Linked DNA regions of Homo sapiens: regions 1, 2, 3, 4 and 5 are each reported to be linked to region 6. The links are microRNA targets in miRTarBase. Many come from high-throughput screens and were not tested one by one. Region 6 holds a microRNA gene; each other region holds the end of a gene's coding sequence.

Region 1 (3,723 bases), not on the chromosome of region 6:
GTGCAGTCTGTTAGGAGGCTTGGGGCCAGGGGTGGGGGGTGGGGGCAGTTTTGCCTTTGCCCCAGGCTCTGCCTGGGAGGGAAGAGTCCTTGTTGCCGCCACCCACTTCTGTTTGTGTTTTGCGTTTTGCAGGGGCGGATGTCCACGCGAGGGACCCCCGCCGTGGGATGTCGCCGCAGGAGTGGGCCACTTACACGGGCCGCGTGGATGCCGTCCGTCTCATGCAGAGGCTGCTGGAGCGCCCCTGCCCGGAGCAGTTCTGGGAGAAGTACCGGCCCGAGCTGCCGCCGCCCCCTGAAGCGGCGCGGAAGCCCGCGGGCTCCAAGAACTGCCTGCAGAGGCTCACAGACTGCGTGCTGTCCGTGCTGACGCCGCGCTCCGTGCGGGGCCCGGAGGACGGGGGCGTCCTGGACCACATGGTCCGGATGACCACGAGCCTCTACAGCCCCGCCGTGGCCATCGTGTGCCAGACCGTGTGCCCTGAGAGCCCTCCGAGCGTGGGGAAGAGGCGGCTGGCGGTGCAGGAGATCCTGGCGGCGCGGGCTGCACGGGGCCCCCAGGCGCAGGAGGAGGATGAGGTGGGGGGCGCGGGGCAGCGCGGGCGGACCGGACAGGAGGACGCGGACTCCCGGGAGGGCTCCCCGAGAGCCGGCCTCCCTCCCGCCCTGGGGTCCCGGGGCCCCGCAGCGCCCGCCCCGCGGAAGGCCAGCCTCCTGCCCCTGCAGCGCCTGCGGCGGAGAAGCGTGCGGCCCGGTGTGGTGGTGCCCCGGGTCCGAGTCAGCAAGGCGCCCGCGCCCACCTTCCAGCCCGAGCGGCCGGCGCGGAAGGGCAGCACCAAGGACAGCGGCCACCTGCAGATCCCCAAGTGGCGGTACAAGGAGGCCAAGGAGGAGAAGAGGAAGGCAGAGGAGGCCGAAAAGAAGCGCCAGGCCGAGGCGCAGAAGGAGAGGCGCACTGCGCCCTGGAAGAAGAGGACGTGAGGGCCCGTGTGCCTGGCGCTGGGGCCGGGGCTGGGGCCGGGGCGGGGCCGCAGGGCTGGGCGCGGAGAAGGAGGCGGCCCCGTTGCGCATCGCACCACTTCCGCTCCATGGACCACGGGGCTGCGCGCATTTCCAGGCTGTTTGTCCAGGCTGCTTCCAAGAGAGGGCTGAGGGAGCCACATGGATTCGCTTGTCGCCAGCCCTCCTAGCAATCAGTACACCTAGCGGGCACGTTGCCTAAAAGGCTCCCTTTAGAGAACCTCAATTAAGATTTTTTTTAAAGATCAATTTATCAAAGGGCGTTTTCTCCGTAATTTTGTATTTTTAATCATTATTTATCAAATTTGCAACGTTTTACAAGTGATAGGGCCCCTTATATCCAAGGCAGTTTTAATACACTTGCCTGAAGACCTTTTGTTTAAGATACTGTTTCTAGCAATAAGTATCCATGATACCTGTATGAGTTCACACAGACATCATGGGATTCTCCCCTTTTTGGCTGTTTGGTCTTTTCTCCTCATCGTGGGTGTAGGTGCACACTGGATGTTCTTAGTCATTAGATTAAGTGTTGCCGGATATTTCTATTTGACGGAGGCATTGGCTCGTTGAGCCACATGATCAAGTGAGACAGAGGATCAGATGTTACTGTATCTTTTTAAAACTCTTATCCATATAGTAATATATTGAGGAAAAACATATTGTCAAATTATAAAACAATGGAGCGATAAACATGTATTTATTGCTAGAATTAAACTCATTTTAAGCAAGGGGTTTTAGGTAAACTGGATACGAAATCTTTAACATTAAAAATAGATATGAGAAAAAAACTGTCATTCGATAAAATGAGGCAAATTTAATAATAAATGATTACCAGAAATACAAAATTAAGCCATATGTGCTCTTAAGTAATTCGAATCCAGATATCCTTAAAATGTCAAAAAGATGCAACAAGAGTCAGGAGCCCAGAATGACGCAAATTACAGGAATGGGGAGGAGGTGATTTTTAGAAGAGGTGAGAGAATGGAATGGGGAACAGACTTGTTTTCGGCAAATTCTCCTGGAGTAGACTGGGCAGCCCCCTCCTCCAGGCTCAGTTCCAAAGAGTCCGTTGTGTGGATATTTCTTTTATTTTTCCTTTGAGGACTGCGCTTGGTGTTTAGTTCATCCTTATGCCGACCTCTTAGAATTTCCAAGATGCAGGGCCTTGGGCAGGGCAGGGCATGGGTGTGATTTGCCTTGGGCCACAAGCTCTTGGTGAGAGTCTTATGTCCACACTTTTATCTCCAAAGTGACATGGAGATCACTTTTCTCAGTGATCAAATTTGAATTTATCAAAGGGGGTTTTCTGCATAATTTTGTATTTGTAATCATTATCAGATTTGCAGCATTCTAATTCGGCAGGGCAGGGTATGAAAGCTGGAAACTCAGGCTGGAGTTTCTAGTTCTAATGGCTCTCTGGCCATGTGGGTTGTAGAGTGTCTGTCACATATGCACTTTATTTCAGTATTAATTGAAATACTTGGACACGCACGATCACAGGCCTATTTGGAGGCTCTGTACTATGACCCTAATAACCCTAGATACATCATGATACATGGTGTCTGTCTCAGGATGCAGGCAGGGCTGGTGCAGGCTTCTCCATACTCCCTTCCACTTGGCACCAGCAGGCATCGAGCAACCAGGGATCTTAAACTGGCCTCTCCAAATACTCCATTGAACAGGACTGCAGGCTGCACCCAGGCTAATGGGAGATTGGTGTGTTGATGATACAGTGTTTAAGATGAGATTGCAGTGAGTTCCTCCTTAATCCCAGAAGGGCACCATGATGAATGCCACAGGAGACTGGACCCTCTTTGAGAACTGCAGATATTAGTTGACTGTGGGTCACCCTCGTGGCCAAGGAGTTGGGATTGGCCATGTCTTCTTCGAGGAGGTGGAGACTGTAACTGACACTGGTTATCTTTGGGGTTGTCTTTCCTGAATCCTTTGGCATGTGGCACCTTCCTGCCACATGTAGATAATTCACGGCATTACCAAGTCACCACGAGCCCCACCCTCACCTCTGTCAACCGAGGACCCAGCCAGGCAGTGCCATGTGGTCTCCCAGGCACGCTTCTCAACACCGGCTACCCCTGCTGTGAAGGTTCTCAAGGCCCTGGTCCGGGGAGCCAAGCCCTGGGAGCGCCCTAAAGCTCCGCAGGTAACTGCACTGCAGCCCGCATTGAGAACCGCAGCTCTAACACAGTGATTGCGAGAGGACACCCATTCTGAGCTCCCACAGAGGGCTCCACCTCCCCAAGAATGTCTCATTGTCATTGGAACAGCCAGGGTCAGGCAGCTTCTGCTCGGACTGACGTGGCGTCTGACCCTTGGTGGGTTGCCAGACATTCCTGCCTGTTTCCACCATGGGAAGCTGTCACTGGGAATGGTATGGAGCCCTCACTTCTACCCCAAGCCTGGGTGTCTGCTGCCTCCATGTCAAAAATGGACATTTCTGGTCCTGCCCAGCTGCTACCTCACCACAACCCATGCTCAGAGTTGTCAGGGATGCGTGGAACAGCAATGATGGGACAGCAAATGACTGGCAATTTCCCCAGGTCCCACGCTGTTCTGGAGTGGACGTGTTGCGGCCCTGCCCCCGATGTGTTCCAGCCTCATCCAGGTGCACAGGATACTCTGGGGCCAGCACAGGGATTGTCCAGTGATGCTCCTGGTGTCCACAAAACAGCTCTAGAGATACCTG
Region 2 (3,829 bases), not on the chromosome of region 6:
GTTCTGGATCTACAGGCTAACAACAGAGGGAAAAGGTCCTCTTCACAACCCCAAAGAGGAGTCCTCTCCAAATCCTAATCTTTAGCAGGTGCCACAGATTTGGATCTACGTGTGCTGAGAGATTCTCCACTTCCTTCCTGAGCAGCCATGGTTTTCTCTCTCATTCCACAGCTCACAGACACTGCAGGACTGGGTATAGGAATTGGCCCTTGGACCCCAGGAAACTACCCCAAATGCATTTCAGAGATGACCCGGTCTCAAGAAATATACTGAAAGTAATCCAGTTTTCCCAATATTCTTTGGACCAGAAAAGTGGCTTGAGGCCAAGAGAGAGAAGCCCATGTCTTCCTACATTAAGTGTCACGGAAAGTGTCACCCACTCTCCCTCTCACTCCTGTCTATCCCCCCACCCACGTCTTAGTGGCCACAGCCTAGGCTGAGAACTCACAGAAGCAGCCCTACTTTCTAGCACAACCTGGTCAAAAGCAAAATAATTTACAGGGGGAAAAACACGAATGAGCAGGCAATGGGGCTCCAGAAAGCCAGGTGCAAAATTGTGAAGTTCAGTTTCCCTTTCACTTTGGGAAGCTCTGCAAAGTAAGCTTTAACTAGCAAAGCAAAAACTTCTAGGCTAATGTTCTTGACTTTGAAAAATAAATTTAAGCCTTGGCTAAGTAATCCCAGGGATCTTTTTTGCCTTAAGTTTCAATGGTACTAAAGGAGTTTACAGTTGAAAGGCTGGGGAAATATGTCTTCACGAAAAGCCAAAGGAAAGCATTCAAAGCTATTCACAAACCCTGCTCAAAAGTGTCTGGAGCTCTTCAATTTAAGAAAAACTGGAAGTCTACAGGCTGGTGTTGCAAACCAAAGAAAAATAGGTGGAAGGGCACTTTATGTCACACTGTTATTTCTGCTATTGTTATTTGTTGTTCCTTCAATACTCTTTACATTGCCAATCCTAAATAATTTCCCTTCTGGTATCTGCTAATCACAGAAAGAATCAGTAATTTCCAGGGGCAAAAGGTTAAAGCACTGCTTTCCTAAACCAGGGCATCAGGGTGCAATCTGAGGATCTGAATGTTCTCTCTGTCAGGTCACCACAGGTCAAACTCATCTTCAGTGGCTTCCCTAGGTGGAGAAGTACCCACATGTTTGCTGGGCCAAACTGACTGGCCTGGCCTCTTATCTTAGAGAAGTTTCTAGCAGTACAACTTGCTTCTTGTTTTTTGTTTTTATTTCTTAATGCTAAGGTTGTTTTTTGTTTGTTTGTTTGTTTACAGAGTATTAAGGCTTCTTAGTAAAGCTTGGGGAACTATTCAACAACTATTTCCATTTTGTTTGCAGATATAATTCAGGTGGTTCCTTCCATTTGAATGTCAAGCCACACTTTGAAGCTATAAAACAAAATAGGTTGTGTGAACAATTTGTTACGGGTAGGCAGGGCCAACATGGGTACTTGGTGGGTTGTGGTTATTCCTATGGTGAGAAATATTCATGGTGATTAGTAAGGGAAGACTTTCATATTGTTTCTCTATAGCTCTCTTTAACACAATGATTTCTAAATTTCTATTAGTCTTTAATGAAAAGATGACATTAGTTGTGTTGCCTTTGGTCTAAGGTTTGCAGGCATAAATGGCACAAAGCTTAAAGTTTATTTAATAGAAAGGATAATCTAAGATGAAAGTCCTTTGCTGGTTAAAAGAGTGACTTACAAGAGATAGAAATCTAAATTTAAGAGCTCATGGGGGTTGGGGTGGGGAAGAAAATGAAAAATTATGAATGCATGCCCCATTTTTTTCCCACAAGATTTCCTGAGCATTCCTCAGACACAGTGCAACATCATAACACCAGTGAATCAATAGTATTTCTATTTTTCTCAAGCAAAAAGTATAGACTCATCAAATATATACTAAGCACAATATATAATAGTATATCATCTTTTAAACACTAGTAATTTGAACTTCTATAAATATATTTAAATAACAAACATAGCTATTCACATAGCACACAAGTGACATATAAACATACAAAAATAAATCCCTCATGTTTAACTCTTTTGTTGCTTCCATGGGTTTTTGTTTTTTTGTTTTTTTGAGTAAAGATATTAAAACAATTCAGATGCCAAAGTCGTCTTGTCAATATTGATCCTGGGAAACCTGGATATAAATTCACACTATGTATAGGGATCACAGCCAAGGACAAGAGCAGTAGACATTCTTTGCGGAACATATTCCTATCTCCTACCATTGAGTAGGAAAGCTCAAAGGAAGTAGAGGTCTCCAATTGTGATGAGATGTTTTCTCTAGCTGTTGTAAGGAAAGGAAACATTAATCAGATCCCCTAACCTGCATAAAGTGTGAAAACACCAAGCTGTCCTTTGAATGAGTGGAATATGGAACACGCCTCCTCCTTCAGCTCTCCCACATGCCACTGTCTATGAAGCATTTCTCATCACATGGAAAAGGCACCACCATTCCATACCAAAGGCAAGGAATTTTTGTTCTGCAACACCACGTTTGTCCTTCCAGTCACTGCTCTAGAAAACATTCCTCCACTCAAACAGTGATTTGGGCCACACAGCTTCCCAGTCAAGTGGAATATGTACATTCTTCTTTTGAAAAACAGAATGTTTCCATGGGCAATTACTCCTGGTAAAATTTGATTCTTGTCCATAGCATTCTCTGGAGAGCAATGAACAGAAGAGACATTTCTCACATCCCCCCTAGAGCCCCACATCACCGTGAGCTCCCAGTAGGAACACAAAAAACGCCTTTCAACTGAACTCAATCATTCCAATCTCAATGGATGCGTTACGACTGAAATGAGGAGCCCTGGTGTATTCGGTGATTATCTTCATCTAACGTGCATCTTTAGATGGGAAGCTGATGCTTGAAGGACTGGGTTTCAGTTTTCCTTTTAAGGAAAAATGTAAGCTTTTGCAACATCTTGAAGAGTTGCTTGTGATAAAATATAAGAGGAGAAAACCCTGACTTTGTCTCAAATGGAATTTTCAACAGAGGGAGAAGAAGGTGATTTCTTGAGTTCCTGGGGGGTGTCATCAGTGTCATCAGGGGCAGGCGAAGCCCGCTGCTGCTGATAGATGTCCTGGATCAGCAGGGTGTTCATGACTTTCCACTCTCTGTATTTCCTGGCTGTCAGCTTCGGGTCATCCAGCAACTGGTTAATCATGGCCAGATCATGTTCTTTACACTGTGTGAGTAGAAAAAAAGGGGAAGGGGGTATGTTGAGAGTGTCTTAATTTACATAAACCATCTTTACCAACTCTTTTACAAGTACACATATACATAAAATTACCAAAGCATTTTTGCACGTTAATGTTCTAATTCCAGCATTAAGCTTAAGAAATACGACATTTGTTTGCATACGCTAGCCGCAAAGAAGTGAAGTATCCTACCCAAGAGTTAGTGGAAGAGCTAGACATATAGCAAAGATCTTCTATGTTGCCTTTCCCTGATCAATCCATTATTCCACACCACAGTAACAATTCTACCTTGGTGTGGGAATCATGCCTCCTAAAACTTACCATTGTAGGTATTAGCATTTTATTGACAATCCAAACTTCACTAAGTAAAATTGGAACGTAACACTTTACCTAGGACATATGGCAACATAAAATATGTCTTTTAAGATTTTATTAAATTATCTTTATTTTTAATAAATCACATTTATTTAATACAGAATAAATACACAGATTATCTTTTCAGTCAAAGAAGAGGCTACTAACCTTCCATCAAAACAGTATGTATTCCAATAATGCTAATAAACAACCTATTGGTGCTATTCCATTCTGCCTCCTCTGTAACCAATG
Region 3 (3,000 bases), not on the chromosome of region 6:
CAGAGGGCGGAGGCCCCAGCTGACCAGGGGTCAGAGGTTACAGATAATCAAAGGGAAGAGGCCGTACATGACCAGAGGGAAAGGGCCCCAGCTGTCCAGGGTGCAGATAATCAGAGGGCACAGGCCCGGGCTGGCCAGAGGGCAGAGGCTGCACATAATCAGAGGGCAGGGGCCCCAGGTATCCAGGAAGCTGAAGTCTCAGCTGCCCAAGGGACCACAGGAACAGCTCCAGGAGCCAGGGCCCGGAAACAGGTCAAGACAGTGAGGTTCCAGACCCCTGGACGCTTTTCGTGGTTTTGCAAGCGCCGGAGAGCCTTCTGGCACACTCCCCGGTTGCCAACCCTGCCCAAGAGAGTCCCCAGGGCAGGAGAGGCCAGGAACCTCAGGGTGCTGAGGGCCGAGGCCAGAGCAGAAGCTGAGCAGGGAGAGCAAGAAGACCAGCTGTGAGGTGAGGGCTAGAGACAGCCCACGGGCCCTCCCTCCAAGTGTGGGAGGGAGAGATGCTCTGCCTCTGAACTTCAAAGTGGAGGTGGAGTGCTGGCCACGTCTCCACCTAACAACCCTCTTTATTCTCTTGTTAAAGTTTTGTTCATGCTTTGATTTTTTTTTAAATTTTTTAGAGACAGGGTCTCACTCTGTTGCCCAGGCTGGAGTGCAGTGGCATGATCATAACTCACTGCAGCCTCAAACTTCTGGCCTCAAGTGATCCTCCTGCCTCGGCCTCCCAAAATGCTGGGATTACAGATGTGAGCCACCACACACACCATCTGATTAAAAAAAAAAAATACTGATTCCTTGTAGCAACCCAAAAAATGTAAAGAAAGAATTCGACACAATGGGGTTGCGTCACCTATAGTTTTCATTTCCTCAAATGCAACTCAAGGTGCTCAGCTTGATAAAGGGAGAGAGGGAGGGCAGGGGAGAAACTGACTCCTTTTTCCATCTCTTTTTTGCCTGCACACTTAATGTGGACTGCCTCCTTGGACTTAAAAAGAGTTGAGCCAACATGCAAATCAAAAAACATTTATGAACTGATTTCTTAGCTTTGGACTTGACAACTGACGAATGCTCTGGGGGTGACCTGGCCCTTGCTGTCCGTTCCACTCCCATCCTTGATGATGGAGACACCTGTGTTTATGTTGTCACTTCGCTTGCCATCCTCATGCCCCGGGCTCTGCTGGTTTGGAGGGGACAGGGCCCTTGGTTTGCACACCTCACCCGATCTTGGTTATAAGGTACAGTAAAAGCGTCTGAAAAATGCATTCAAAACACAGATTCTGGGGCCCTCGGCACCAGAGGTGTGGATTTGCTAGCGGTGCCTGTGTGGCTCTGAATTCTGTTTGCATCAAGCTCCACGGACATCTGGGCAACTCGGCCACTGGACACATTGAAAAATCATTGCAATAGGAAAAGGCCCAAAAGAGGGGCTGTGGTTGGCCGGGCATGGTGGCTCACGCCTGTAATCCCAGCACTTAGGGAGGCCAAGGCGGGTGGATCACGAGGTCAAGAGATCGAGACCATCCTGGCCAACGTGGTGAAACCCCGTCTCTAATAAAAATACAAAAATTAGACTGGCCTTGTGGCGCACGCCTGTAGTCCCAGCTACTCTGGAGGCTGAGGCAAGAGAATCTCTTGAACCCAGGAGGTGGAGGTTGCAGTGAGCCGAGATTGTGCCATTGCACTCCAGCCTAGTGACACAGTGAGACTCTGTCTCAAAAAAAAAAAAAAAAAAAAAAAAAAAAAGAGGCTGTGTGTATTGTGCATTAATTGCTGCTGCATTTTTTTTTTTCTTTTTGGAGATGGAATCTCACTCTCTGTCTCCCAGGCTGGAGTGCAGTGGCACGATCTCGGCTCACTGCCATCTCCGCCTCCCTGGTTCAAGCGATTCTCCTCCCTCAGCCTCCCGAATAGCTGGGACTACAGGTGTGTGCCACCACACCTGGCTAATTTTTGTATTTTTAGTAGAGATGAGGTTTCACCATATTGGCCAAGCTTGTCTTGAACTCCTAACCTCAGCTGATCTGCCCACCTCTGCTTCCCAAAGTGCTGGGATTACAGGCATGAGCCACTGCACGCGGCCAACTGCTTCCTATAATTGGGAAGAAACTGGGTTGCTAAAGCCCTGTGGAGGTTAGGAGGAAGCTGGGGGCCTGTATTGCCTTGTGTCCCCACAACCCCTAGCAGTGAAAAACAGCAAATGACCACACTCTAGCCTTGCTGAGGGCAGGAGAAAAGAGAGTTCGTGGAGGTCCAAAGGCCAGTCTGTCTTCCTAACTGGTTGCAGGCCTGGCCTAAGTTTCTTATTTTTTTCCTCAGGAAAGTAAAGAATTCTATCCCACCACCCTCCTTTTGTTTTTCTCTCTTCCACCCTCCTCCCTCCTTCCCTCCCTCCCCTCCCCTTCCCTCCCTCCCCTCCCCTCTCCCTCTCTCCCTCCACTCCCCTCCCCTCTCCCTCTCTCCCTCCACTCCCCTCCCCTCTCCCTCTCTCCCTCCCCTCTCCCTCTCCCTCCCCTTCCCCCTCCCACCCTCCCTCCTTTCCTTCCTTCCTTCCTTCCCTCTTTCTTTCTTCCTCCCTCCCTCCCTCTCTCTTTCTCTCTCTCTCTTGCTTTCTTTCCTTTCTCTTTCTCTCTTTTCTTTACTCTTTTCTTTCTTTCAAGACAGGGTCTGGCTCTGTCACCCAGGCTGGAGTGTGGTGTTGCAATCACGGCTCACTTGCACTCTTGGGATCAAGCGATCCTCTGGCCTCAGCTCTGGGACTATGGGAGTGAGCCACCGCGCCCCACCCCTGCTCTTTTCTGAGTGGAGTGGTTACTGCTGGTGCTGCTTGCTGCCTGGCGCGCCGCATGGCCTTGCTAGAGCCGCTTTGTGCATGCTGGTGGATACTTGGCCGTGTAGTCCACGGCTCACAGCAAGAACGAGGCCCTGGGAGGTTTGGAAGAAATACAAGCTGTGGACCTCACCTGGAGGGGAGGCTTTGCAGGTGCGCGGAGGAAGACAGGC
Region 4 (3,829 bases), not on the chromosome of region 6:
AGGCAGGAGAATGGCTTGAACCTGGGAGGTGAAGGTTGCAGTGAGCCAAGACTGCACCACTGCACTCCAGCCCGAGCAACAGAGCAAGGCTCTGTCTCAAAAAAAAAAAAAAAAAGTAGTTAGTTAATGCAAAAAGCTCCTATCTTCTAGACTGTTAGAATTTGATGGGGTTGGGCCGAGCGCGGTGGCTCATGCCTATAATCCCAGCACTTTGGGAGGCCAAGGTGGGCGGATCATGAGGTCAGGAGATAGAGGCCATCCTGGCTAATATGGTGAAACCCCATCTCTACTAAAACTACAAAAAATTAGCCAGATGTGGTGGCACATGCCTGTAGTCCCAGCTGCTCGGGAGGCTGAGGCAGGAGAATCGCTTGAACCCGGGAGGCAGAGGTTGCAGTGAGCTGAGATTGCACCAGTGCACACCAGCCTGGTGACAGAGCGAGACTCCATCTCAAAAAAATAAATACATACAAAATAAATAATTAGAATTTGATGGGGTTTTAGGTCATTCTGTTTTGACTTGTCTATGGTCAAAATATTTTCCCCAAAGCAAACATTGGAAATAATGGGGCTCATTTTAAAGGGGCAGGTGTGAGACAGCCAAACTAGTGAGCTTATTGGAAGCAATCAGGTTAGTAATTACAGAGGGTTGGTCTTCCCTTTCCTGGCAAGGATTTAGAGTCATAATAGTGATGGCTTTTTGTTAAAGGTTTTTCTTGCCCTTTCAGGAACTTCACCCTGATGAAATTGACACCGACTCTGCCTACATTCTTTTCTATGAGCAGCAGGGGATAGACTACGCACAATTTCTGCCAAAGATTGATGGCAAAAAGATGGCAGACACAAGCAGTACGGATGAAGACTCTGAGTCTGATTACGAAAAGTACTCTATGTTACAGTAAAGCTACCACTCTGGCTGCTAGACAGCTTGGTGGCGAGGGAGATGACTCCTTGTAGCTGATACTTGGCAAAAGTGTCACTGAAAGACAAGCTAAATGTAGTTATTTTATCCTGTTAGAACAAAAATTCTAATTAAAATAGTTAACTTGAAGAGTAGAAACAATTGTATTTTGAAGTCTCATACAAGCTGTCTGATAGAGAACTTTCAGGCAGATCCCACCATTAGCCTGTAAACAAAAGGTGTGGCACCAGCCACCTGGGACCAAATAAGAATTGAATTGTGCTTGTCCAGATATGAACAAATATGTAGTGAGTATAGAGTTTACCAATAATCATAACAAATATTAAAGATTTCCTTGGAGTCAGAGGAAAAAACAAACAATTATAATGTTGTCTAGGGACGACATGATACGCTACCTCCTTTTTCCTGAAGTTTTATTCCATTATATTGACAAGATGGAGAAAGCAAGATCATGAAGGTGTGCAAATGATTCTTACGGCATGGACAAGGATTTTTCAATTTATTTTTTAAACTGTTTCCATACCCTTTCTTTTTCTTGCTTTTTGTTTTTGCCATTGTGTTTACGTTTGAGACACAACCAGTCATTGGTGGCAGGGGCATAGAGTGGTCAGTCTGAAAGGGAGGCTCTCTTAAGAGCTATGTGCCTTCCAACCAGAGGGAGACCCAGTAGAAAGAAAAACATCCTGGGAAATCCAGCTACCAGGGCCCTCCCAGTGGAGGCATCTTACATTTAGGCTACTTCAAGTATCCTCAGAAATGTATTCTGCACCCCCGGCCCCGCCCATGCTGAGGGAAGGGGAGCAGTTGCCAATATTTGCACCATCTTCACATGCACATGTTGCAACAAGAGCTTCTGGGAAGGTAAGCGGCATCGGAGCTAGATCACGTTTCACAATTAGTGGTTATTCTTTTCTGTGTTTGTTTTGCACTTTAAAAAAGAGAGAACACATGCAAATGAACTTGCTTGTGTGTATTTGATGGCTCTAAGGGCTATAAATTACAAACAAAACACATCCCAGACATTAGGAGTTCATAAGTATATTTAATGAAATTGGTGGTTTTAGGAAGTCAACTTTAGTTTTGCTTTGTTTGCATGTCCACTGGTTTTTTTATTTTGATATTTGTCTTTTTTTAAATTTTACAGTAGTCATTGAAAGTTATGTTTCTTTGCTTACTTCATTTTTTCCCTCTAATTATTTAAGATTGGAACAAAAGTATAAATATTATTTATTTGAGGTAGAATTTTTTTCATGTAGTTTCTTAATATATACTTGAAGGAAATGTTTCACCTTATTTTTGGTCTTTGTTTATTCATTTAGACCCTGCAAGTTGATTCTCATTGCCAGATTCCATTACCCTTTCTTCCTCATAGGTAGTAATTACCAATGTAACTAAGCATTTGTGTTCTGATATCTGAGGCCAGTAACTATTAATATCTAGTTCTCAGAGCATTTGGAAAGGTTATCTTAAATGGCTACCTAAATTGAAATCCTTTTCAGAAAAAATATAATTGCAAGTAGGTAGGAGTGGCCTAAATTGTCTAATGTAATAAAGTCAGACAAAATGCACACTTTATAGTTTCAAGATTTTCAGTAAATAAAATCTGTCCATTCCTACCTGGACATGTCCCATTAAAAAGTGGAAGATTTTAAATAATTTCTTTACAGATGTTTTATTTAAACAGGTAGCACAATCTACTAATGTTGTGTGATTTGTGTTATACTGGTTGTAATTAATTTTTTTAATTCATGAACTAGCGGAAAATTTATTAAATTAACTATTAACTACATTCACCTTGTAAATTACTGTATAAAACTTGTTGACAATGCACTGACTTTAGAAAGATGTTAATGTACATAAATAGAGTGTAAATAAAATAGTGTTGATGTACTGAAATATGAACTGTATCAAAAGTATTGGTAATTGTATATGGGGTGTACCTGTTTATCTGTTAACTATTATCCAAACAAATTAAATACTGTGGTTGCCTCTATGTGCTGTTTTTCCTCATACAAGTAAACACAGAAAGTCAAATTCTTCAGCCTCCCTCTCTGTGATCCTGTTTTAATTCTCCTACTTGAATAATTTCTTTCTGACTTGTATACAGAGGGGATGCTTCATCTCTGAGGTTGGAAACTCTGTAGAGCAGGATTCCCCAACTCCTGGGCTACAGACCAGTACTGTCCATGGCCTGTTAGGAACCGGGCTGCACAGCAGGAGGTGAGTGGCGAGCTGTATTTATAGCCGCTCCCCCTTGCTCCCATTACCGCCTGAGCTCTGCCTCCTGTTAGATCAGCAGCGGCACGCCATTCTCACAGGAGAAAGAACCCTATTGTGAACTGCGCATGCTAGCAATCTAGGTTGTGTGCTCCTTATGAGAATCTAATGCCTGATGATTTGAGGTGGAACAGTTTTATCCTGAAACCATTCCCCCCATCCCCCCAGTCCGTGGAAAAATTGTCTTCCACAACACCCATCCCTGGTGCCAAAAAGGTTGGCAACCACTGATGTAGAGGGTAGAACAAGATCTCTCCAGTGACCAGGTGACTTTAAACATGGCTCACATCCCTTTTAGAAAGTTATGGCAGGGAAGCAAGTAGAGAGCAGGTGGTAAACTGAGGATTGGTGCCTACATTGGTACCTACAGTGGGTCCTACAGTCATTTTTGTGCAGATCAGGAGATGAGGTGAAGAGAAGGAAAGCTTCTCATTTGCATAATGCCTTGAAATGACCCTAGGTTTCTAGCGGGCACCGAGAAACCAGAGATGCCCCTTGTTGTCTGTCTGGGAGATCCAAGGAGACATCTGGCAGTGTTGAGAAGAGATGAAGGTGACAGCTGTAGGTCCTTCACCCTCAGCTTCTATTTGTTCACCTATAAAGTTAAAATACGGAACACTCAGGCTTGTA
Region 5 (3,829 bases), not on the chromosome of region 6:
TTTTATTTTTCCAATGCCTTATGTTTTTGATGCTTCTCTTATATGTAGCATATAACTACTTTATTTGAAATCAAGACCAGCAACCTTTGCCCTTTAATTTGAAGCATTTCAGAGACTCCAATTTTATGTGCTAGACTGTTTTGTTATATCCCAGAATAAGCAGGTGCCTCTAGTGGAAAAACTGCCTAGATGTCTCCTTGTCTCTCCATTTTCTTCTTCTAGATCTTGATCCTGTAATTCTTCATTATATTGCAAGCAGATTTTTAAAAATGTGCAGCTTTTATATTAATAGCCACTGTCAGCAGTGGTGTTCATCACTATTACCTGATATTTATTTCTGGAAGTAGAAGATCTGCTTTTTAAAATATATAACATTATATATCACATAACAGGAACAATAGCAGCCTTACCATTAAAGGGTTGGTTCTATTTATGCTTTTCTCTTTCATTCCTAGACAGCAAGGTAGAAGTTCTATAACATATCCCACTCTAAACTCACCTTCATTTGAGTGCCATAAAGTATCTCAATCTTGCTCTCACTCTCCAAGTGCCTTAGGTTTTACCTTGCTAATGTGAACCAATTTCCAAATCTCAAGCCACCATTCCTTTCAGAACTGGAATTATGGATTTGTGTTCATCAATGGACGTAACCTTGGGCGATATTGGAATATTGGGCCTCAGAAAACACTGTACCTTCCTGGAGTTTGGCTTCATCCAGAAGACAATGAGGTATGTCACTCCAGTCTCTGCCTTGAGATCTCATAAACTTTCAGATCAAAATGTGAGTTGCAGTGTCTTTTTCAACCTGTACTAAATAGGCTTCACCTTTCCCACTGTCAACCTTTCTTTTCTTCTCAGGTCATCTTGTTTGAGAAGATGATGAGTGGCTCAGATATCAAATCTACAGACAAGCCCACGCTGTAAAACTGTGTCTGAACATTTTTTTTTTTTTTTGAGATGGAGTCTCACTTTGTCGCCCAGGCTGGAGTGCAGTGGCACAATCTCTGCTCACTGCAAGCTCAGCCTCTCGGGTTCACGCCATTCTCCTGCCTCAGCCTCCCCAGCAGCTGGGACTACAGGTGCACGCCACCACGCCTGGCTAATTTTTTGTATTTTTAGTAGAGATGGGGTTTCACCAAGTTAGCCAGGATGGTCCCAATCTCCTGACCTTGTGATCTGCTCTCCTCAGCCTCCCAAAGTACTGGGATTACAGGCGTGAGCCACCACTCCCGGCCGTGAACATATTTTTTGGGTTGCTGGAGTTCATCTATAAGTCATTTTTGAGGAATAAGATTTATGTTAAGACTATCAAACACAGTGTTGCCTACAATAGCAAAAATGTGAAAATAACAACAACAACAAAACAGCAGAGGAATTGTTATGTATTTTGTAGTCTATCTATATGATGCCTATTTTTAGGCTTTAAAAAGTCTTCAAAATCTTTAATGACTGATTTATCTAGTTAAATGCTTAATCCTTAGCAGGCTCTTATTCTTTAATTAAACGTGCCTTTGAGTAGATGTGAATAAAATAAAAACAAGTTTCATTTCTGCCTCCCATACTCAATTGAAGGGAAGGGAAAGGTCTGAAGCCTGGGGAAGAGTAAGGATACTGATTTCCTCATGCCAGAGAGAGTATTGCATGTACTAATGGGCAAACTCACGGTCTCCCTCCTCTCTCTCTCTCTCTCTCTCTCTCTCTGTGTATGTGTGTGTGTGTGTGTGTGTGTGCGCGCGCGCGTGCATGTGTGTGTGTGTATGTAGGAGTAGGGGAAAGGAGAGGGCAATGAACAATGTCTTTCATTTCCCTTCAACTATGTGTCTACAAGGTGACCCTGCATGTCACATCTAATCAGAGAAGGAACAGAAATTTGGTCATTTGCTTCAGACACGTGTGACAACAAAGCTAGCGCAGGGTTCTCTGTGTCTTCTTACTCCCTGTCTATCTGGCTATAGTCAAGGCTACTACTGATAGTGGGTAGGCATTAGTGAGATTAGCCACACACACATGAATATTCCAACCACTATGAAAAGCCAGTGGAGCCATTTGAAAAAAATGGCACCATTGGGAACCAAGCACTTTCTTATATACAAAACACAGCACTTGGCCTAAATTCAAACCAATGCACTATAAGCAAATCTTATCACCCTGTTAAATATAGTGCCTAGGGCTTTCAAGTAATTTAGTAAGTAATCTTGTGTCCAGAGGGAAGAGAACCCTCTGTTTGGATTGGAATGAAGATAAAGATGTCAGATTATCTTCTCTCCCACTAGTCTGAATGACTATTTCAATGGAGGAAACTTCTGTGAGATACCTCCACAATTCTACATAAAACTTTATTCTCTGGGGATCTAGCCTCAAACCTATGAACTCTATAGAAACTGCAATGTAAAGGAGGGAAGCAGAACTAATAATCATAATGATCTTGAGTACATATTATATTTCAGGTGTAACATCTGCAACATCTAAACTTAACAACAACCATGCAACATATCCATTTTACAGATGAGAAACCAAGGTTCAAAGAGGTATTTGAAATCATGTCTCTCTGATTGGCACCTCCTCTTTCGCTACTACCTTAGTTCCACACGTATGCCAGTCTTTTCCAAATATGAATGCAAAAATGCTATTCAGAAGATATAATGCTTTCAGTGCACTTAGAGAAAAAGAGCTCACAACTTAGAATTCTTTACCCAGCAAAACTATTTTACAAGAAAAACAAAAAAAAAAAACAAAATATAGAACTTTCTGACAAACAAAAACCAAGAGAGTTATCATCAAAAGATCCCCACTAAATGATGTTCTGTAGCGGCCTTTCTCAATGTCCCATAAGAGAATTAAACACTGCAGAAAGTGTCTTCAGTGACTAGTTTCTCATTATATCATCTGGATGCATATTAGAGACGTTAACTCATTACATACTGTGGATGTCTTGGGGCATTACATCTTCACGCTCTCAGGGAACCACAGTTGAGAAGAAATTTCTAAAAGATATGCCACGAGCAGATGGAAAGTCTGACTTTTAAGAAAGAACGTGGAATCCAAGAAGGATGCTGACATATGTGAGAGTGAATATGGACAAACGTTAACTCCATAGAAATAGAGCCAATGTCTAACTTGAGGTAGCATCAGCATAAAACTCTAAGACCAGGCAAAAACACTGTGTAAAGCGAGAGGGATGTGATGGCCAAAAAGTGATCTAAGATTTCTGTAATTCTCAGATATTAACTTTAGACTTTGTTGAATATTCCTAGTTAATAAACTAAGCTTAATGTTTAAAGAATATACATAGAGCTTTTAACTTTCTAAAAAAATTAGGAGGATAAATAGAGTAAGAAAAAACAAACAAACAAAATCCTCTAACCAATAAAAGACAAAAGATAGTAGAAGATAAAGAAGTAGAAAAATAAGTACAAGTATAAATCATGCTGCTATAAAGACACATGCACACGTATGTTTATTGTGGCACTATTCACAGTAGCAAAGACTTGGAACCAACCCAAATGTCTATCAATGATAGACTGGATTAAGAAAATATGGCACATATACTCCATGGAATACTATGCAGCCATAAAAAAGGAGGAGTTCATGTCCTTTGTAGGGACATGGATGAAGCTGGAAACCATCATTCTCAGCAAACTATCGCAAGGACAGAAAACCAGACCCTGCATGTTCTCACTCATAGGTGGGAATTGAACAATGAGAACACATGGACACAGGAAGGGGAACATCACACACTGGGGCCTGTCATGGGGTGGGGGGAGTTGGGAGGGATAGCATTAGGACATACACCTAATGTAAATGAGGAGTTAATGGGTGCCGCACACCA
Region 6 (3,829 bases):
CGAGCCAGGCCCGGGGCCGCTGCCTCCGAAAGGCTGCTCACCGAAGTCGGGCCGTGGGTAGAGCCCCGGGGGCTGGAAGTCTGCGCCCTGCGCGCCGCCGCCGTAGTAGTCGGCGCCCTGCTCGCCTAGGTAGCCGCCCTGCAAATACTCCTCGCACGGAGGGAACTTGGGGTCCACATACTTGGAGTTCACCATATACGAACTCATGACCATTAATTTCAGAAGGTAGAAAATACTAATTTTTCTCGTGTTGTCTTTTTTTCTCCTTCCATAGGGCCCTCCTACTTGCTGTCAACTGAATAAAGTTGGGCAGCCATGTGACCAGGCCAGCCAATGGCGAGGGAGCAAGTTTATCACCGGGTTGGTGAGCATCTCATAATTTTCACAAATTTAACTAAATAACATACGTGTAATCAAGTAGCTTGCTATGGCACATTTGAGAGCCCCTGCCAGATATTAATGTAGTTCCAGTCCCCAGCACCCCATTCCCCTCAGGTAATCCCAGCTTTTGTCTGCCACTGATTTTGCCAACCTTCCGTGGCCCTTCCACTCACCCCCAGCTGAATGCAACCCCCGCCCCCCGACACCAAGTAGGCACAGCTCAAGGGAGAATGAATCCTCCTATTGGGGTACAGAGCAATGAAAGGTGGGTGGGTGAACTCGCCTCTGAGTTGGGCAGAGTGCCCCAGGCGAGGAGGGTTCCTGCCTGCCCGCCCTGCCTGCAGCCGGCGGGAGCAGGGATTCTGCCATACAAAGGCCGCCGTCCTGGCTTTGTCTTCATCAGGGTCACCCAAAAGTTACCAGAATCTGGCCAGCTTGAATCAAATTAGGCAATGAGTAACCGCCATGCTTTCTACCAGTGCCCAGGCCCGGGGGTTCCCAGCCAAAGCTGGGCCCTGCCAAAATAGCAGGGGGCCCTCGCTGCCCTTGCCCATGTAGCTGGGGGTGGGCTGGGATGGTGGCAAGGGCACCTCCACCTTGTCAAAATGCACCCTAGAGCTCCCCACTGGGCTTCTTTGAAGCTTGCTTTCTTCCCACAGGCCCCAAATACAAGCAAGCCCCCATTTGGGTACCTTTGCACCTCATGTTCCTGGAGGGCAGAGCTGGGACTGGGCAAGCTGGCCTTGTACCTCACTCCCTAGTACCCCAAAACCTAGCCCTTTGGCCCTGCATCCATGCAACCAATTAGGCTTGCATTCTCTCTTTCTCTCTCTCTCTCTCTTTCTCTCTTTCTGTCTTTCTTTCTTTTCAGCACCCAGAGGATACTCTGTTTAAAGGTGAGGAGCTTCTGGAGAGGAAAAGCTGCTCTATGTCACCAGGCGCAGCTGATCCTCCTGGAGTCCAAGGTAATAAAACAGAACGAGGCGGCTGACCAGCGCCGGCTGCTTCTAGTCTCCATGTCGCACTTTGGTCTCTGGCTATTCCGAAGAAACGTGAAGTTTTTGCATCGACCATATATTCCCCTAGAATCGAATCTGTGACTATACGGATACCACACAAATTCGGTTCTACAGGGTATATATAGACAACGTTACAACCTCTGGGTCCCACCCAGAGTGAGGTACCTAGGTCGCTGCCGGCCCCAATCTCTTCCTCTGAGCCACCACCGTTCGACGCAGCCACCCGCACTTTCTGAGACAGTTCAGGTAGCCTAATGGGCTTGGCGACAATTTGAAGCAATGAGTTCCCTCATTCTTCTGCCAGGGTCAGGGTTACCAAGCAGGCGAACAACCAGAATATTCTTCTTAAGAAAGAAAAAAAGAAAGAAAGAAAGAAAAATAATCCATCCCAAGGATGGCGGCTTTATTAACCACCCTCCCCCACCAGGATCCAAATAACCCTCCTCCTTACCAAGTGGTATTTTCCAGAAAGGAACAAATGCCCTCAGCGGCAGAAGAAAAAGAAGCGAGAGGGGAATATCCTGTGTCTACTCCTTTTCCTACTGCCCGACCAAGCCAGGTTGTCTGCCAAAGCTACTTCTCCAAGAAGTCGCGCATTTACCTTCATGGGCCCTGATCCGGGCTGGCCTCTCCGTTCCGCTGCTGCTGCAGACCCCGAGGCAGGCGCTGCTCACAGGCACCGAGCCGCCTTGGGCTGAGGCCGGCGCGCTAATGGTGAAGGGCAGGGCGAGGGGTCATTCGAAATCATTTACAAACATATCACAAACTTTCATTATTTTTGCTTTGCCGACAGCAGCACACAAGAGTACAAAAGTTCACAAATTTCACCCGCCCCAGCGCCTCGGCACTGTGCAGTGCTTGTCCCTCAGTTCAGGGCATGGAGAGCGCAGACTCACTCAGAGCCTCGATGGATTTCAGGGGCACAGGGATGCCCTGGCTCGAGTGGGGCTTTTGGGTGCCTAACTGTAGGCTGAAGGTGTTAGATTTTTTTTTAACTGTCTTGATTGCCCTTCCTACCTCCCACATAATTCAAAATTTAGTTTCAAGCCTGGGCCTGGGCCTGGTGGGGTGGGGCAGGGATACTCCCCCTCCAAGCCTGGCACTTTGCTCATCCCCCCATCCTTTGCTTCCACCACTTTACCTGTTTCGTAGGGATTTTGGGGGCGCCAGTTCTAACAAGGGCTATGAGGCTGCAGAATCTGTTTATCCCAGGAGAGTCCCCCCAATTTCCCTGAATGCCAAAGACTCCCAAGTATCCACCTTCCTGGGACACTGGGCCTAGGCTCTATCCAGACAAATTGGGGGAGCCTGCTGAGCCGGCTGGAGACCGGGGTGAATATACACATTTTCATATTTGTTAGACGCTGTGACCTGCATTTCACCTTATTGCTCGACTTGTTCAGACAGGTCAAAGCCAACGAGTTATTGATGAACAAAAGCGTTAAATATTCACCTCCCGCTCAACTGCCCATACTAATGCTTTTGATCTCTAGGGCTTTTTGTGCTGTGTTCAGCTACAGGGCGCTGAATGTGGGTTTGCTAGCGAGAAGCTTCTGCAGAGATAAGCACCCAGAGCCAGTGCAGGGGAGGAGAGAAGCAAGACCAGAGGTCCCCAGGACACCAGATTTTCCAGACTGGAGCCCAGAGCCCCTTTCACTTGAGCCAGCCTGGTGTATAGGGGTAGTTGCTCTTCTAGGGGTGTGCACAGTCTACAAAGGGTCGACTAGACTGCCCAGCCCAGCGGGGCCAAAAAACCTGTCTCTGAGGCCAGCCCCAGCTTTTCCAACCAAGAAGGAGGGAGACTGGTTCCTGCAGCCCTCACATATTCCAACTCCCATTAAAATAAAATCACTTCCGTTTTGCAGTGAGGGAGGGGCCACAGTTCTTTCTGTGACTCTCCCTCCAATACCATCGTCTTAATGAGATGGTCCTCCAGGAGGCTTCACAGGCCTAATCAGAAATGTACCTGTCTTTCGCGGCACAGGCAACTCAGAAAGATCCAAACATCCAAGCCAAGGATCCCACGAGTCTCTGGCCCCACCCCACCGCATCCACCCCACTCCACCCTCCTATGCCTCCTTGCAGCACCAGCGCCTCTGGGGCGGAAATTCTCCAACTGCAGTTACAGAGAAGCAGAGGTGAAAAGAAGGTCCGTATCCCTCCTCGCTCAGCCAGTGTCCCAAGCCCAGGGCCCACACCGCTGCAAACAGATCGGGGGAGGGGCGGGGAAGGAATGTCCACATAAAGCTCAGAAGCGGGCAACTCAACACACCCACGGCCACAGAGGATTGAGTTTTTGTTTTCAGTGAATTTTTTTAAAAACAGAAGGTTGGCCAGGCTAGACCAGGTTAAGAAGGGTTGGGCTGCGGAGGGGACCGCATTGCCTTGGTGTTTACTGCGTTGGTTTGAAGCCGCTAATAAGACAGGCT

The links. The annotated mature microRNA hsa-miR-10b-5p reads UACCCUGUAGAACCGAAUUUGUG and lies in region 6 at 1,496-1,518, opposite strand. An mRNA with a match to its seed (bases 2 to 7 or 8) in the 3' UTR can be bound and repressed. Matches are read on the target gene's strand: a 7mer-m8 pairs with bases 2 to 8, a 7mer-A1 pairs with bases 2 to 7 and ends in A, and an 8mer does both.
Region 1: miRTarBase lists ANKRD33B as a target of hsa-miR-10b-5p. Seed matches in the 3' UTR shown: 7mer-A1 at 2,384-2,390.
Region 2: the mRNA of IPCEF1 is a reported target of hsa-miR-10b-5p. The part of its 3' UTR that is shown has no 7-base or 8-base seed match.
Region 3: the mRNA of CCDC8 is a reported target of hsa-miR-10b-5p. Seed matches in the 3' UTR shown: 7mer-m8 at 623-629.
Region 4: miRTarBase lists USP6 as a target of hsa-miR-10b-5p. The part of its 3' UTR that is shown has no 7-base or 8-base seed match.
Region 5: the mRNA of GLB1L3 is a reported target of hsa-miR-10b-5p. The part of its 3' UTR that is shown has no 7-base or 8-base seed match.

Annotation. Positions count from the first base shown.
Region 1 is chr5:10,649,134-10,652,856 of GRCh38, forward strand. ANKRD33B (ankyrin repeat domain 33B) reads left to right here. Exons shown (of 4, transcript NM_001164440.2): 4 at 133-3,723. The coding sequence ends at 980. Among named protein-coding and RNA genes, the nearest start is that of ANKRD33B, 87 kb to the left of the region's middle.
Region 2 is chr6:154,156,831-154,160,659 of GRCh38, forward strand. It overlaps IPCEF1 (interaction protein for cytohesin exchange factors 1), which reads right to left. Exons shown (of 12, transcript NM_001130700.2): 12 at 1-3,210. The coding sequence ends at 2,998. It also overlaps a transcript of OPRM1 not described here. Among named protein-coding and RNA genes, the nearest start is that of OPRM1, 120 kb to the left of the region's middle.
Region 3 is chr19:46,408,641-46,411,640 of GRCh38, reverse strand. It overlaps CCDC8 (coiled-coil domain containing 8 subunit of 3M complex), which reads left to right. Exons shown (of 1, transcript NM_032040.5): 1 at 1-1,312. The coding sequence ends at 447. Among named protein-coding and RNA genes, the nearest start is that of CCDC8, 3.4 kb to the left of the region's middle. RefSeq lists an enhancer at 2,437-2,961.
Region 4 is chr17:5,172,077-5,175,905 of GRCh38, forward strand. It overlaps USP6 (ubiquitin specific peptidase 6), which reads left to right. Exons shown (of 38, transcript NM_001304284.2): 38 at 729-2,915. The coding sequence ends at 902. It also overlaps a transcript of ZNF594 not described here. Among named protein-coding and RNA genes, the nearest start is that of ZNF594, 18 kb to the right of the region's middle.
Region 5 is chr11:134,318,019-134,321,847 of GRCh38, forward strand. GLB1L3 (galactosidase beta 1 like 3) reads left to right here. Exons shown (of 20, transcript NM_001080407.3): 19 at 613-729; 20 at 859-1,546. The coding sequence ends at 924. Among named protein-coding and RNA genes, the nearest start is that of GLB1L2, 12 kb to the right of the region's middle.
Region 6 is chr2:176,148,018-176,151,846 of GRCh38, reverse strand. It overlaps MIR10B (microRNA 10b), which reads right to left and starts at 1,544; the gene lies at 1,435-1,544. HOXD4 (homeobox D4) reads right to left here and starts at 297. Exons shown (of 2, transcript NM_014621.3): 1 at 1-297. The coding sequence starts at 213. RefSeq lists enhancers at 1-578, 3,107-3,650.